Linked DNA regions of Homo sapiens. The protein of the gene in region 1 purifies or fractionates together with the protein of each later gene. This does not show direct contact. Each region holds a gene or a part of one and is shown in the gene's direction. Other genes may lie near its edges.

Region 1 (4,298 bases):
GAGAAGGGTGGCTGAAAAGGGACCCAGAATGGCCCACACAGTCTCAGCACCCACCCCACTCCCCATCACAAGCAGCTGTGTCCTGGTGCCTCCCATTCCAATGGCCACAGGGGCAGCTGGGAAAGGAACTGTCTAGGGTCAAGGTCAGGCCAAGGGGAGACGTGGCCACCACAGTTCTGGCTCCCAGCATCTCTGGATTTTCTTTAGAAAAGCCCATGACACCCACTGGATTAGCAGAAACTCCGCGAGGGGTGAGGCTGATCTACTTGACAAGGAGAGACTGACCTGGGTGCTGGAAGGGGCCATGGGCAGCCCTCTGTGGGTGACCCCCATTCAGACAGGCTGCCGGGATTCCCAGCCCCAGGGCCTGGCTCCCTGCCCAGAGCACTTCCAGCTCATGGCTCGCCAGCAAGAAGACTCCTTATCAGCCTTAAGGGTGGGGCGGCTCCGACGACAGGGCCGTGGGGGCTCGCCAGGGAGGCCCCTGCTTCCAGCTTGAACCTCCAGTACCACCCCGGGTGAGCTTGGGCAACTCATTTCTCTTCTCTGAGCTTGGTTTTCTCATCTTCAAAACGAGGGGTGGGGCTGGGGAGGCCTCCAGCTCTGAGGAGCCAACGTGGGACCCTCTGCCCACCCCAAACCCCTGTGTTCAGGGCCCGAGCTGGGGGTGGGAAGGGAAGGCAGGGACTGCAGAGGTGCTGTGCCCCAGACTCAATGGTGGCCTCCAGTTCTCTGTCCCGTGTTGCTGAGACCCATCCCCTGTGAGCCTCGACCTAGAAGGAACAGCCCTTATTACCCCAATTTACAGATGAGGAAGCAGGCTCGGAGAGGCAAGGTGACACCCAGCCCCCACAGCCAAGAAGTGGCAGAGCCAGGGATCTCCGAGGTCAGGCTCTCTCGGCTGGTCTTGGGCCCCCCATGGCACTGGTGACGGATGTGGTGCTGGTCTTGGCTGGGCACCTGCCACCTCTCTCCCTCTGATGGTGGCCCCGGCAGGACAGACAGTGGGAGAGGAGAGCTGGGGGATAGAGATGCCAGCTCAGCACCGAGGTTGACCGGGCACAGGCCAGGCTGGAACTCAGAGCCTCCTTCCTCTCTGCCTTGCTCGCTGCAGACCCCCAGGGACGAAGCAGCCAACCCTGGTGGGGGAGGGTGGAGGGTGGTGGATGGGGCTGGGGATGGAGGTCTCATTTTGGCAGTGGAGGGGAGTCGCGGGGAGTCCCCTAATCTGAGGAGACTCCAGCTTCCCCCAGGCCCTGGCCAGAGCTCCATCTTGCCAGGTTTTGGGGGGAGGATAACTTGAGGAGTCGACTGAGAGCTTTATCTTTGCCCCTGTGACGGGTGGCCTGTGGTTTCCTGCCAACAACTCCTGTTTCCGGAGGCCCAACAAGGCCCACGCAGAGCCAGGAGGGGCAGTGGGGCTGGGCCTGGGTGGCCCCACCAGCCCCGCCCCATCTATCTTTGGGAATTTATTTGTCCATGGGCGAGGCTGGCCTGCAGTCTGTTGCCTTCCAGGGGCCAAGAGCTGCTCTGATCACCCAGGGATTCTCTCTCCAACCCAAGTGCCTCCAGCTGACCTCTGGCTCCTGTCCTCTGGCTCCACCTGCACCGCCCTGCTCTTCCTAAGGGGCCAGGAAGCCCCCAGAAGCTCTACCATCGACGTGGGTGGTGGCACCCGGCTCACCCTGAGAGCAGAGGCCGTGCAGGGGGCTCAGTTCTGAGCCCCAGCCGGCCCACCATGGCACGGCGGTTCCAGGAGGAGCTGGCCGCCTTCCTCTTCGAGTATGACACCCCCCGCATGGTGCTGGTGCGTAATAAGAAGGTGGGCGTTATCTTCCGACTGATCCAGCTGGTGGTCCTGGTCTACGTCATCGGGTGAGTCCGGGCGCCTCCCGCTGCCTGCACCAGCCCCTACCCCGGGCCTGTCCTCCAGACTCTGACATCCCTTGCGTGACACCAGCGAGCCCCTCTTCCTCTCCATCCAGGGGAAGGCCTTCCTGGCAAGCCACTGTGCGAGAATAGAAAATCCTGCCAACTCGCTGTTGAGATGGGGACGAGGCCGGAGGGGAAGCCCTGCCCGGGGGCCTTCGGTGAACAGGAGGCAGAGTCTCTGGGTTCTGAGGAGCCGGCTCAGTGTTATGGTTCCTTTGAGTGGTTAGTGGTGTTCAGGGCCAGGGCACCACCAACCACAGCCACTGAGTCCTCGACCTCTGACCGCCTGCCAAACCAGGCCGCCACTGACACACAGAGGCCATACCCCACACCCGTCACCCCATATGACAAGTTAGAGAGAGACAGACTCTGCTGCCAGCTTCCCTGCCTGAGCAAGGGACATCCAGGGACGTTTGAGGCCCCCGGAGCAGAGAAACTCTCACATTCTGAATACCTGGTGCCTTCATGTTGGCATGTCAGGCGGAGGACAGAGATTGGTTCTGGTCCCAGGGATGATAGTTCCTTTCTGGGCATCTCCGGACCTGTCCCACCGGGCTGGGAGTGCAGAATCAGAGGCAGCGTGGGACGCTCCTGCAGTATGGTTGTCTCGGGAGCCAAGACAGGCCTGGCAGAGGCTGGCACACTTGTGAGTGTGCATATGGAGCTCTGTGCCTATATGTGTCTGGGTGTGTGTCCCTGGTGCTGAGTGCCCACATGTGGGTACCCTTATGTGTACATATGGCTGTGCCCATGTCTGCCCTGTGGCCAAGTGTCTGGGTGGCCAGTGTGTGTCCCCTGTGTGTGGTGCATCTTGTCCACTCACAGTGACTCTGCAGAGGTCTCCTGGAGGCCCCAGGGCCACTGGAGGGGGCTCAGCCCCTGCTGGGGTCCTAGGGGTGCCCAGTAGCCCCTGCCTGCCTTTGCCGTGTGATTCTGAGAGCTCTACCCTCCCCATTTTTACCATGGTTCCGAACCAGAACTGCTAAATGGAGTCCAGGGCAGGCTGACCCAGGGCCCAAACAAGGACCATGAAGTCCTAGTCCCCCGGAAACTTCTGGCGTCCAAAAGAGCCCTCCTTCTGTCCCACCAGTCCCCAGAACCTCAGAGCCGGCCAGGTGGACCCAGGGCCAGACCCCAGCCTTGACCTCTCCTCTCTCTTGTTCAGAAACTAATTTGACATCTGTGATGTCTGAGCTTGTGAGGGAAACTGAGGCCCAGAGAGGGGCAGTGGGGTTTCCAGGTCCACAGCAAGTCAGCAGCAAACCCAGGGTTGCAGCTGAGCCCTCCTGACCCCCAGGCCTCTGCTGTGCCTTCTCCTTCCTCACCATCACAAGGGGCTGTGGATCCTTTCTACTGGGCACTGATGGTGGGATGCCAGGTACAGGACGGGCCGGAAGTCCACCCTTAGTATCACTCCTGACCGTCCCTGGGAGAGGCTGTCTGCGCAGGCCCAGCCTACCCTTGCTGGAAGAGGCTGGGGGAAGGCTGTCCTCTCTCTGCCCCTGCGGCTCCCTAGTTCTGCTTTCAGATCTGCAGGTGTGAGGGGCACCAGGTCCCTCCTCTGTGTGTGTCACAGGCTGTCAGCGTTGGAGGGACCCACCCATTCCCAGCCGTAGCCTATGCCCCAAGCTGCTGCCCAGCCGGGAACCTATACCTCCAGTGACGGGGACCTCACTACCGTCCTCCTGCCTGTCTTCCCTCCCAAGACTGTCTAATCAGTTTCCAAATGGATGTGGCCCTTCTCGGTGTCTGTGGGGCTCAGGACCACAGGGATTAGCCAGGATCTCACAGCTTAGTAAGAGACTAACCAGGATTTGAACCCACCTGCATGGCTCCAAAGTCAGCCTTGATATTCTGGAAAGGCAACCTCCTCAGAGAGAGGGCACTGGCCTGCCCACGTCACACAGCAGAGGGTGGAAGGAAGGCAGAGTCCGTCATCACCAGCAACCCCCAGGGCTGCAGGCCCAGGCTTCCAGCTCCTGCTCAGGCTGTGGTGCCTGCTGTCTCTTGCGCCCTCGTCTGGCCACTGCTCAGTACTGCACTGACCTCTCAGCCAGGAACCCACAGCGGCAAACCGAACCCCTGACCCAGCCTGGACTTGGTCTTGGCATCTCCGGACTCAGCTTCCTAACCGGCCCGTGGGGCACGGGTTGCAGGGGACCACCCCCCCCAAGAGTGCACTCAGCTCAGCACTTTGCTGTTTCCTGAGGAGGGCTTTGCTTTCATGTCTGATCCTGTGGGCACTGCCAGGGGATGGAAAGGAGCATGAGAGAAGAGCCAGGCCCCCGTGTCCCAGACACAGGGCAAAGCCTGGGTGGGGGATGGGTGGACACAGAGACAGACCTGGACAGAGGGACAAACGCCAG
Region 2 (3,500 bases), on another chromosome or scaffold:
ACCGTGTTAGCCAGGATGGTCTCGATCTCCTGACCTCGTGATCTGCCCGCCTCAGCCTCCCAAAGTGCTGGGATTACAGGCATGAGCCACCGCGCCCGGCCTCAGTAAACTTTTTTTTGAGATGGAGTCTTGCTCTGTCGCCCAGGCTAAAAGGCAGTGGTGTGATCTTGGCTCACTGCAACCTCTGTCTCTGGGTTCAAGTGATTCTCATATCTCAGCCTCCCGAGTAGCTGGAATTAGAGGCGTGCACCACCACACCCAGCTAGTTTTTGTATTTTTAGTATTGATGGGGTTTCATCATGTTGGCCAGGCTGGTCTTGAACTCCTGACCTCAAGTGATCCACCCACCTCGGCCTCCCAAAGTGCTGGGATTACAGGCATAAGCCATCATGCCCGGCCCATTCAGTATACATTTTTTGACCAGCCACCACATGTTAGGCCCTGTTTTGGGTGCTGGGTGTACACACAGTAGTGAGTGACATGGTGAAGTCACCCCTCTCTGAGACTTACGCTCTGGTTCTAGAAGACAGACAATAACAAAGGCATGAGGAGGTAATCGTAGTGGTTGTGGTGCTGAGGGAGGGAACCCTGCAGGTGTCTGGGGGAAGAGCGCTCCGGTAGCAGGCACAGCCTGTGCAAAGGCCCAGAGGCGGGAGTGTGCTGACGCATCTGAACACCAGCCAGCCAGCCAGTGCAGAGGGGCTGGGAGCCAGGGAGCGTGGTGGGGGTGGTGGGTGCTGGCCAGATCCTGTCAGGCCCCACGGGCATGGAGAGGACTTGGCTGTGACTCTGAGGAGCACACAAGCCTCCAGGGGGCTCTCAGCCAAAGAGAGACAGGAGTTGACTCAGAGCTTTTAAAATAACTTTATTAAGATATAATTAACATACCATAGCTCGTCCCTCTAAGTGTATAATTTAATAGTTTTAGTATATTCGCAGATATAGGCAGCCATCCACATAGTCAATTTTAGAGCATTTTCATCACCTCCAAAAAGAAACCCCACATCTCTCAGCTGTCACCCGCCCCCTCCTCCCCGACACTCCCAGCCCTAAGCAACCACTAACCTACTTTCTGTCCGTATGGTTTTGCCTATTCTGGACATTTCATAAAAATGGAAGCATACAGCTGGGTGTGGTGGCTCACGCCTGTAATCCCAGCACTTTGGGAGACCGAGGCAGGAGGATCGCTTGAACTCAGGAGATGGAGACCAGCGTGGGCAACATAGGGAGAGCATGTCTCTATAAAAAATTAGCCAGGCATGGTGGTGTGGACCTGTGGTCCCAGCTACGTGGGAGACCGAAGCGGGAGGATCGCATGAGCCTGGGAGATCAAGGCTGCAGTGAGCTGTGATCTCGCCACTGTTCTCCAGCCTGGGTGACAGAGTGAGACCCTGTCTTAAAAAAAAAAAACAGGGTGGGAGGAGGGGAGCACAGACGTGGTGGCTTATGCCTGTTATCCCAGCACTTTGAGAGGCCGATGAGGGCAGATCACTTGAGGCCAGGAGTTCAAGACCAGCCTGGCCAACATGGCAAAATCCCGTCTCTACTAAAAATACAAAAGTTAGCTGGGTGTGGTGGTGGTGCCTGTAATCCCAAGCTACTCCGGAGGCTGAGGCAGGAGAATTGCTTGAACCCAGGAGGTGGAGGTTGCAGTGAGCTGAGATCGTGCCACTGCACTCCAGCCTGGGCAACAGAGCGAGACTCTGTCTCAAAAAAAAAAGAAAAAAGAAAAAAAGAAAAAGAAAAAGAAATATATATCCATGACATAGACAGAGCGGACAGGAATGAGCAGAGGTCTCTGTGAGAGAGTGTGGGGGAGCCCTGGTGTGGGCCTATCCTGGCACCCGTGGCTCTGGACAGGGGACAGGATGGGGCAGGGAGCTTCCTGGTGTCTGCGTGGCTCAGGCACGCCACCCTCTGATCGGTCCCCAGCTCTCCATCCATGAGACCGAGGACCCCAACGACAACCGATACCTGCTGGTGATGAAGGGTGCCCCCGAGCGCATCCTGGACCGCTGCTCCACCATCCTGCTACAGGGCAAGGAGCAGCCTCTGGACGAGGAAATGAAGGAGGCCTTCCAGAATGCCTACCTTGAGCTCGGTGGCCTGGGCGAGCGCGTGCTTGGTGCGAGGCTGCCGGGCGGGCTCTGGGGTCCCTGGAGGGCAAGGAGGGTTGTGATGCTGCCCAAAGCCTGTCTCAGCCCAGGGCCTCCCAGAATATACTGTAAATGAATGAATGAATGAATGAATGGATGGATGAGAGGGGAAGGTATCCTAGGAAATGAATGCTGACTGGCCGTCTTGCTGATGGGGAGATGGAATGCGGGCGATGCAGACATCTAGGGGCATGGGGCGGAGGTTCCGAGGCTGGGACCCTCACACCCCAACCCTTCCCTGCCACTAGGTTTCTGCCATTATTACCTGCCCGAGGAGCAGTTCCCCAAGGGCTTTGCCTTCGACTGTGATGACGTGAACTTCACCACGGACAACCTCTGCTTTGTGGGCCTCATGTCCATGATCGACCCACCCCGGGCAGCCGTCCCTGACGCGGTGGGCAAGTGTCGCAGCGCAGGCATCAAGGTGTGGCTTGGGGTGGCTGGGGGAGGCAAAGCCAGGCGTGGGGCGGGAGAGGCCATCCCTAAAAAACAATGCCTGCAGGTCATCATGGTCACCGGCGATCACCCCATCACGGCCAAGGCCATTGCCAAGGGTGTGGGCATCATCTCTGAGGGCAACGAGACTGTGGAGGACATCGCCGCCCGGCTCAACATTCCCGTCAGCCAGGTTAACCCCCGGTGAGCCACCCATCCCAGCCAGGGCCCTGGACATCCCTCTAGGGTGTTGACACAGGGGGACCGCTTCCCCCCAACCTCCCTCTGCACTGCCTGTCCCATTCTTTCTGGGACTCCTCCATGGACCAGGCCCTGGGTCTGGCCCTCCCTCCGGTGTGGGGACATTGCAGCCACAGAGGTAGCCAGGCATAGGTTTGCATCCCAGCCTTTATTTTATTTTATTTATTTATTTATGTTTTTGAGATGGAGTCTTGCTCTGTCGCCCAGGCTGGAGTGCAGTGGGGCAACCTCAGCTCACTGCAGCCTCCGCCTCCCGGGTTCAAGCAATTATCTGCCTCAGCCTCTTGAGTAGCTGGGATTACAGGGGCCCTCCACCATGCCCCGCTAATTTTTTTTTTTTTTTTTTGTATTTTTAGTAGAGACGGGGGTTTCACTATGTTGGCCAGGCTGGTCTCGAACTCCTGACCTCAGGTGGTCCACCTGCCTTGGCCTCCCAAAGTGCTGGGATTACAGGCGTGAGCCACTGCGCCCGGCCTGCATTCCAGCTTATACCGCTCACAAGCTGTGTGACATTGGGCAAGTCCTTTAGCATCCATGAACTTCAGTTTGCCCATCTCTAAAATGGGCTACTAATAATTCCTATCTCAGAGGATTCAGTAGAATCCAGTACTTCTGTGTCTGTCTCTCTTTTTTCCTGTCTGTCTGTCA
Region 3 (3,500 bases), on another chromosome or scaffold:
TATGTAAATGTGTTTTTTTGAAAATTTAAACACGCAAAGTAAAAATTAAAAGTTTTGGTTAAGTTGTGAATTTCAGAAATTTATCTTGGTTATGGTGTCCTGAAGTTAAAAAGAATAGAGCATTAGTACATTAGTACATAAACGTTCTGTTATTCTCTGCCTAAGGGCAAGATCCAACTTTGAACCAGGTCCTGGATTTCCTCTCATCTTAAATCGGAGCCTTTTTCATTTGTAGTATAAATAAATTAGCCTTTTGATGCTGTGATTTTATTTGTATATGTTATATATGAGATTTATATCTCTCTTTGTATGCAGGCATTTCACTAGATTTTGTTTGGCCATCTATTTTTAGTGTTTCCCTAGCAGCATGTTTGCTTTACCTGCCTTCATCTAGGTTTCTACATCATCAGGGGTGGAAATATTAGTTGGCTTAATTAAGCTTGGGAGTTGTACCTTACTTGCTCTGTTGAGTGTCAGTTCTACCTTCTTTTGAAGCAGGCAAAAGCAGTTCATGGCACAAATGCCAGAAATAGCATGCAAACCACTTTGTAGTGGTATGCAAACTAATTTCTGCTGTGTCCTTTTCTTAATGCTTGTGAGGGTTACTGTTTACTTAAGAGTTAATATTTGGCTTATGAAACTAGTATCAGATGAGAAATTCCAGCATCCCTCCCCACCCCAGAGAAAGATGTGGTCATTGGGGACTGCTCTGAAGTCTGCCAGCCCTCTATCCTAAAAGTTGGTAGATCAGTTATTATATCTTGATATGTACCCCTAATTCATATGAGGGGCCAAGAGAGATTAGTTACTCCTGATTTCATCTGTTAGAAGATAAAGGGAGTGTGGTTTGTATCTATATTAGAGTAATGGGAATGAAGGGTAGGGATGGATGACAGAGATATTTTACTCCTAGGAAAAATCAGCAGGACTTGGACAGTGACTAGATACAGAGAATTAAGGGAATAGTTGAATCAGACATGACTGCAAGATGTCATTTGGGTCAGTGAAGGTGCCATTGATTGTGGTTGAAGGAGTGAGCCGATTTAGGGGCTGGCTGAAGGGAATATATAGGTCAGACTGTCATGATGTGAGGCTCATATAGCTATGCATGGAGAGAGGTGTTAAATCAAGCACCAGGATTCAAAGTGAGCTCTTGAAGGCAGAGACCTCAATTTGTCCTTTATTCATCTTGAACAGACTCTGGGACGTACCTACTGTCAATTGAATGAAAATGCTGGCTTCTTCCTTCTAAGTGGTTCTCATCTCAGGATTGTTTTGCCCCCGGGGGACATTTGGCAATGTTTAGAGAAATGCTGGGTTGTCACAACTCAAAGTATGCTACTGGCATCCAGTGTGTAGAGACCAGGGATGCTGGTAAGCATGCTACAATCCGTAAGACAGCATCTTCTACCTCCCCCCGCCACCCTCAAAATTTTTTAGCCCCAGATGTCAATGGTGCCAAGATTGAGAAACACTGTTCTAACAAACGGCAAGGAAGTTGACTCCTCTAAGCCTTGGTTTCCTCACTTGTAAAGAGATTATGACTACTTCAGGTTTGTTAGAATTAGACCAGGCAGGGTGTGTACAAGTGCCTGGCATGAAAGAGCCTCTCAGCAAATCCTAATTTCCCTTACCTTACTTGATGAATAGATTTAGGGGAGTTACTTTTGGTCTTTTAACTGCTAATTTCAAGGCTTCACGTTTTTTTTTTTTGTTTTTTTTTTTTTTTTTTTTTTTTTCTGAGAGGTGAGTGGGATGCCTAGGAAACATAGAGTAGCTTTTATAATCTTAATGCTTTTCTCATGGTTTTATCAAATTATGATTTTGATTATACTTTGGTTTGGGTTTGTACTATTTCAGGATTCAGTATTTAGTGTTCACCTAGCAGTAGACAATGAAGTTAAACCCTTAGTGTAGATCAATGAAGTTAAGCCCTTAAATTTTACTTTTTAGCCTGTAAATACATTTTATGTATTATTTATTGCTCACAGAACTGTTATTGTTTGGAAGCAATTTTACTATTCTTTGAAATCAAGACCAAAATGTACTGAATTTTATTTCTCATGGAAAATGCTAGACCTCCTATGTCTATTGCCTTTTTCCTTTTTATCCATTTATTCTAACTAGACCCCCCCCGAAGTCAGAACTCTTCCTTAGATTTCCTTTTTAGGGTCTTCATTAGGTGGCTTTCTTTTGCTTGTCGGGTGTCTTTTTACTTTATTTTGTAAGGTGTTGAATATTCCCTTTATTTTGTAAGGTGTTGAATGTTTCAGTGGTGTTAGGGACAGGACCACCGATATTTTCATCTCTAATACCAATCCCTTAGTGATCTATTCCAGTCATAGCCTCAGTGTTTAAAGTCTCCTTACATGTACATAGTTGTGTGGCATTCTCATTTTTAGGGAGTCACTGGAATTCTTTGCTGCTATTTCTTTCCTTTTAGGAAAAAAACCGGTTTACTCTTACTATACATTATTTTCTCCATCTATAGAATGGAATTACTGTAGGTAAAAGTCCTTGAGTTCGGTAAACTATGTATTGGACTTACTAATGTACGTTTTATTAATTGCAGGTGGAATTTAGAAATAACCTGCCTGTTTTTCATCTTAAACTAAGATTATTTAAATATTCCATTCATTAATTAGTTGGTTAGAAAAATTAGCTTTTGAGGAACACCACTTAAACATGGAAAATAATAACAGAGTACATTTTGTGACAGCAAATAAATTATCGGTTAACTTAACCCTATAGGATTCAAAGTTGGTAGCTTTAAATGATATTAAATTGTATTTGACTGTCAACTGCTTTTAAAGGCTTACGTGGCTCCCCATTGTACCTGTAGTTATTTAGGTCTGGAAGCACAGGGTGTTAAGAATGCCACCATAATGTCTTTTCATAAGGGTTTGGTTTGTCATAGCCTGTAAAATTAGGTTCACCAGTTAGCTGCTTTATGAAATGAATGTCATTGGTCATGGTGGGGGAGGTATTAGGAGAAGGTATAAAGGAATCTAAAAAAACTTTCTTTCTTTCTCTCCCTCCCTCCCTTCTTTCCTTCTGCCCCTTCCTCCCCCCTTTCCTTTCCTTTTTCCTCTTTCCCCTTTCCCATTTCCCCTTTCCCCTTTCCTTTCCTTTCCTTTCCTTTCCTTTCCTTTCCATCTTCTGTATTGCTAGTAAAATAATTGTTGCTCACTGAAGGCTTTAAAAAACACTGGTTGCATGCTTAATATAGGATGGCAACAAAATGGACGGGTTTAAAAAATATGTAGATGGTATGATACCCCTTTCCTCCATCCTTGTACCAAATTTCTTTCAAACCTAGAATAATTTATACAAACAGATGTATCAGTAGATGGAGTATTATGCCCACTTTTTAATTTAATGATCAAAAAATGCCAAATTCTTCCCAGAGTGGCAGTATAATTCAGATGTAGTTAACTGTTGGATGCAAATTCAATTATGGTAGAAAGATTTACTTTACTTTGAGAGGTTTTTCTAAAATC
Region 4 (3,500 bases), on another chromosome or scaffold:
TATGATAGTTTCATTAGTCATGGGGAAAAAGTGGTTTGTTAGGAAGAATGATAGAAAATAAATATGATGGGGGCAAAAGGGGATTTATGGCTTGAGAGAGCCAGGAGTTTCACTGTGGACACTGGCAAGGTAGCCTTAGGAAAGCTCTTTTTCCTTCATTCCTATGCCTGAGTTTTCTGATTTGTAAGGCAGGGAGTGCCTACTACAGTACCATGCACATCCATTTTAGGTAGTCTATTAATACTAGATGGTAGCATGGAGCGATAGATGAGAGGCAGTTATTTTGCCTCTCAGGTTCATGGGAAAAAAAATAGTTATTTGTAATAAATTTTACAAGGCTTAGGAAAATACCTTTCTTATAAGTTTGATTTTAGGTATTTATATGCTAAAACTCACTTGTTGCTGTCTCTGAAAGAAGCTTGTAACTCATTCTTCATTCACTTAATAAATATTTAATGAGCATATGCCAGCTACTGTGTTAGGTGCTGTGGATGCTAATATAAATAAGATGTTCTCCGCTTCCTCAAATCTCATTCATTTTAAAGGAGGAGTTAGATATACAAATGGATAATTACAAGACAATGTGATAAGTGTGACAATAGATGCATATGTGGATTACAATTACGTCACTGCAATTTGACTTAAGTATAATATTGATGGCTCATAAAAATTTTTTTTAGAATAAGTAATGCATGCATCTAGTATAAAAATCAGAAGGCACATAGGGTAAACAGAGAAAAGTAATTCAGACTCCCTGCTACCCCTATCTCCTGGCCATTCAGTTTCCTTCCTCAGAGGCAGCCAGGATTACAGTGTATAGCCTATACATAAAAATAGCAGTTAATTAAAATGAAAACCAATTTTAATGTTTGTGTTTTGAATACGAATAATTTCACAAAGTAAAAAAATTCAAAAGGGCCCGGGCACAGTGGCTCATGCCTGTAATCCCAGCACTTTGGGAGGCCGAGGTAGGAGGATCACCTGAGGTCAGGAGATCAAGACCAGCCTGGCCAACATGGTGAAACCCTCTCTCTACTAAAAATACAAAAATTAGCCAGGAGTGGTGGCACACACCTGTAATCCCAGCTACTTGGGAGGCTGAGGCATGAGAATTGCTTGAATGCGGGACTTGGAGGTTGCAGTGAGCCGAGACTGTGCCACTGCACTCCAGCCTGGGCAACAGAGTGAGACTCTGTCTCAAAAAAAAAAAAAAAAAAAAATTTTTTTTCAAAAGGAAATGAAGGGGTACAGAGTAAATTGCAACTTGTTTGTCTCTGGAAAGAAGATGGGCATTTGGCCTAATCTAACCCAGGAGATGACAGTGTTAATCCTTGTACTTCATACTAGCTGCTGTAACAACCCTTAAATCTAAGTGGTTTAATACAATTGGATTGTATTTCTTTTTTATCATATTTTTTTTGGGACAGAGTCTCCCTCTGTCACCCAGGATAGAATGTGCAGTGGTGCGATCTTGGCTCACTGCAACCTCTGCCTCCAAGGTTCAAGCCATCCTCCCACCTCAGCCTCCGAAGTATCTAGGATTACAGACGTGCACCACCATGCCTGGCTAATTTTTGTATTTTTAGTAGAGACGGGGTTTAACCATGTTGGCCAGGCTGGTCTCGAACTCCTGACCTCAAGTGATCTGCCCACCTCGGCCTCTCAGAGTGCTGGGTTTACAGGTGTGAGCCACCACGCCTGGCCAGGAGTGTATTTCTTGATTACATCTCAGACTCATGCCAGATAGGCAGCTCTCCTAGATACCACATCACTCATGTAGTTACAAGGTATCCGAGGTTCTTCCATGGTGTGGCTCTGCTATTTCCCAGCCCTTCTTTCCTAGCTGCACAGACTGGAGAATGTGAATTAAGGATTGTGGGAGATTTTAGTTGCCAGCAGTGGAAGTGTTGTACATACATAATTTTGTCATTATTTCATTGGCCCAAACTAGTTATCTTCCCTCTCCTAGTTGCTGGGAAGGCTGAGAAATGTATTCTTTCTGTGCCCTGGAAGAGGAATAGGATTTGTGAACATCAAGCTATTTATTCTCTGCCATAGTCTTCTGGTTCCTTAAACTTGACTCTAACCTTAGTATCTCTTCTCTTTCACTGTAGGTAGTATACCTGGCCAGTGAGACCTTCAACTATAGTGCCATTGACCGAGTGAAGTCCAGGGGCAAGCGGCTTGCACTAGAGAAAGTGCCAAAAGTTGGACAGCGGTTTAACCGCATCGGGCTACCACCAAAGGTATAGACGCACCTCTGGCTTATCAAGGGTCATGATTTATAGTGACATAGTCATCCAAGTGGTGAAGCAAGGTGCCTACAACTCAAATATGGGCACGTGAATAACCTGCCCTGAGGATCCTGTCTTCCTTATTTCTGTCAAGTGGCTAAGGTTTGAAAAGTTGAGACCTAACTTTTCACTTTACTCCTCTGGTTCATTTGGATAGGTTCTTTAATTTGGATGGATGATCACTGTTACATCTCTTTTCTCCTGTACTTGCAAGAAATGAGGAAGTAAAGATCTTGAAAAGTTTTCCTTCTCTGATACAAACTCCATAGGGCCTTAATGGGTATCTGGCATATACTCCAAAGGTCTTTGGATTTGGGCAGTAGGGAAAAACCTTTGTTCCTTCCTCTTGGTTCCAGGTTGGTTCATTCCAGCTCTTTGTTGAAGGCTACAAAGATGCAGACTATTGGCTGCGGCGTTTTGAAGCAGAACCTCTTCCTGAGAACACTAACCGGCAACTACTGCTCCAGTTTGAGCGGTTGGTGGTGCTGGATTACATCATCCGCAACACTGGTGAGCAGCTGCAGGTGGTCCCATGCCCTGTGCCAGACTGTGTTGAGGCATGGGGAGGCCTGGAGGCTTGCAGGGCTTGGGAGTCAGAGTACCTTGTCCAGACACATCATGTGTAGTTTTCAGAAGTGGTGAGGCCTGGAGTTAGTATTTGCATTTTATCTTACACTCTTTCCTGGTTCCAGACAGAAGACACTTAACTCTTCCAAAGCACTGTGAAGAGTACTCTTATCCTTGATCCCTAGTCATTCTTGTAGCCTCAAGACCTGTAACAGGACAGTTTTGTCTTCCTCTGACTTCTTGAGGTAGATGTTTAGATCATTGATATTTAAAAAAAATTTTTTTTCAGTGCAATTTAAATTCAACTAACCTGGTAAAATGTACATGTATTGAGGACAAAAGTCTTTAAATTCAGGCTGGATGTGGTGGCTCATGCGTGTACTCCCAGCACTTTGGGAGGCCAAGGTGGACAGATCATTTGAGGCCGGGAGTTCCAGACCAGCCTGGACAACATGGTGAAACCCTGTCTCTACTAAAAATACAAAAATTAGCCGGGTGTGGTGGCGGGCACCTGTAGTCCCAGCTATTCAGGAGGCTGAGGTGGGAGAATCGCTTGAACCTGGGAGGCGGAGGTTGCAGTGAGTCAGAATTGCACCACTGCACTCTAACCTGGGTGACAGAGCAAGACTCTGTTTCCAA

The links. Proteins that work in one complex are often made in the same cells at the same time.
Region 2: the proteins of P2RX1 (region 1) and ATP1A3 purify together in Homo sapiens (affinity purification with mass spectrometry; one large-scale study listed by BioGRID and IntAct). This does not show direct contact.
Region 3: the proteins of P2RX1 (region 1) and ATP2C1 purify together in Homo sapiens (affinity purification with mass spectrometry; one large-scale study listed by BioGRID and IntAct). This does not show direct contact.
Region 4: the proteins of P2RX1 (region 1) and PI4K2A purify together in Homo sapiens (affinity purification with mass spectrometry; one large-scale study listed by BioGRID and IntAct). This does not show direct contact.

The regions. Positions count from the first base shown.
Region 1 is NC_000017.11:3,913,666-3,917,963, reverse strand, and holds the start of P2RX1 (P2X purinoceptor 1), read left to right. Parts: upstream 1-1,498; 5' UTR 1,499-1,738; coding exon 1,739-1,875; exon of another isoform or gene 1,876-2,405; coding exon of another isoform or gene 2,406-2,578; intron 2,579-4,298.
Region 2 is NC_000019.10:41,977,231-41,980,730, reverse strand, and holds part of ATP1A3 (sodium/potassium-transporting ATPase subunit alpha-3), read left to right. Parts: intron 1-1,932; coding exon 1,933-2,125; intron 2,126-2,404; coding exon 2,405-2,580; intron 2,581-2,658; coding exon 2,659-2,795; intron 2,796-3,500. UniProt on the Homo sapiens protein: This is the catalytic component of the active enzyme, which catalyzes the hydrolysis of ATP coupled with the exchange of sodium and potassium ions across the plasma membrane.
Region 3 is NC_000003.12:130,900,584-130,904,083, forward strand, and holds part of ATP2C1 (calcium-transporting ATPase type 2C member 1), read left to right. Parts: intron 1-3,500. UniProt on the Homo sapiens protein: ATP-driven pump that supplies the Golgi apparatus with Ca(2+) and Mn(2+) ions, both essential cofactors for processing and trafficking of newly synthesized proteins in the secretory pathway.
Region 4 is NC_000010.11:97,654,171-97,657,670, forward strand, and holds part of PI4K2A (phosphatidylinositol 4-kinase type 2-alpha), read left to right. Parts: intron 1-2,114; coding exon 2,115-2,246; intron 2,247-2,650; coding exon 2,651-2,804; intron 2,805-3,500. UniProt on the Homo sapiens protein: Membrane-bound phosphatidylinositol-4 kinase (PI4-kinase) that catalyzes the phosphorylation of phosphatidylinositol (PI) to phosphatidylinositol 4-phosphate (PI4P), a lipid that plays important roles in endocytosis, Golgi function, protein sorting and membrane trafficking and is required for prolonged survival of neurons.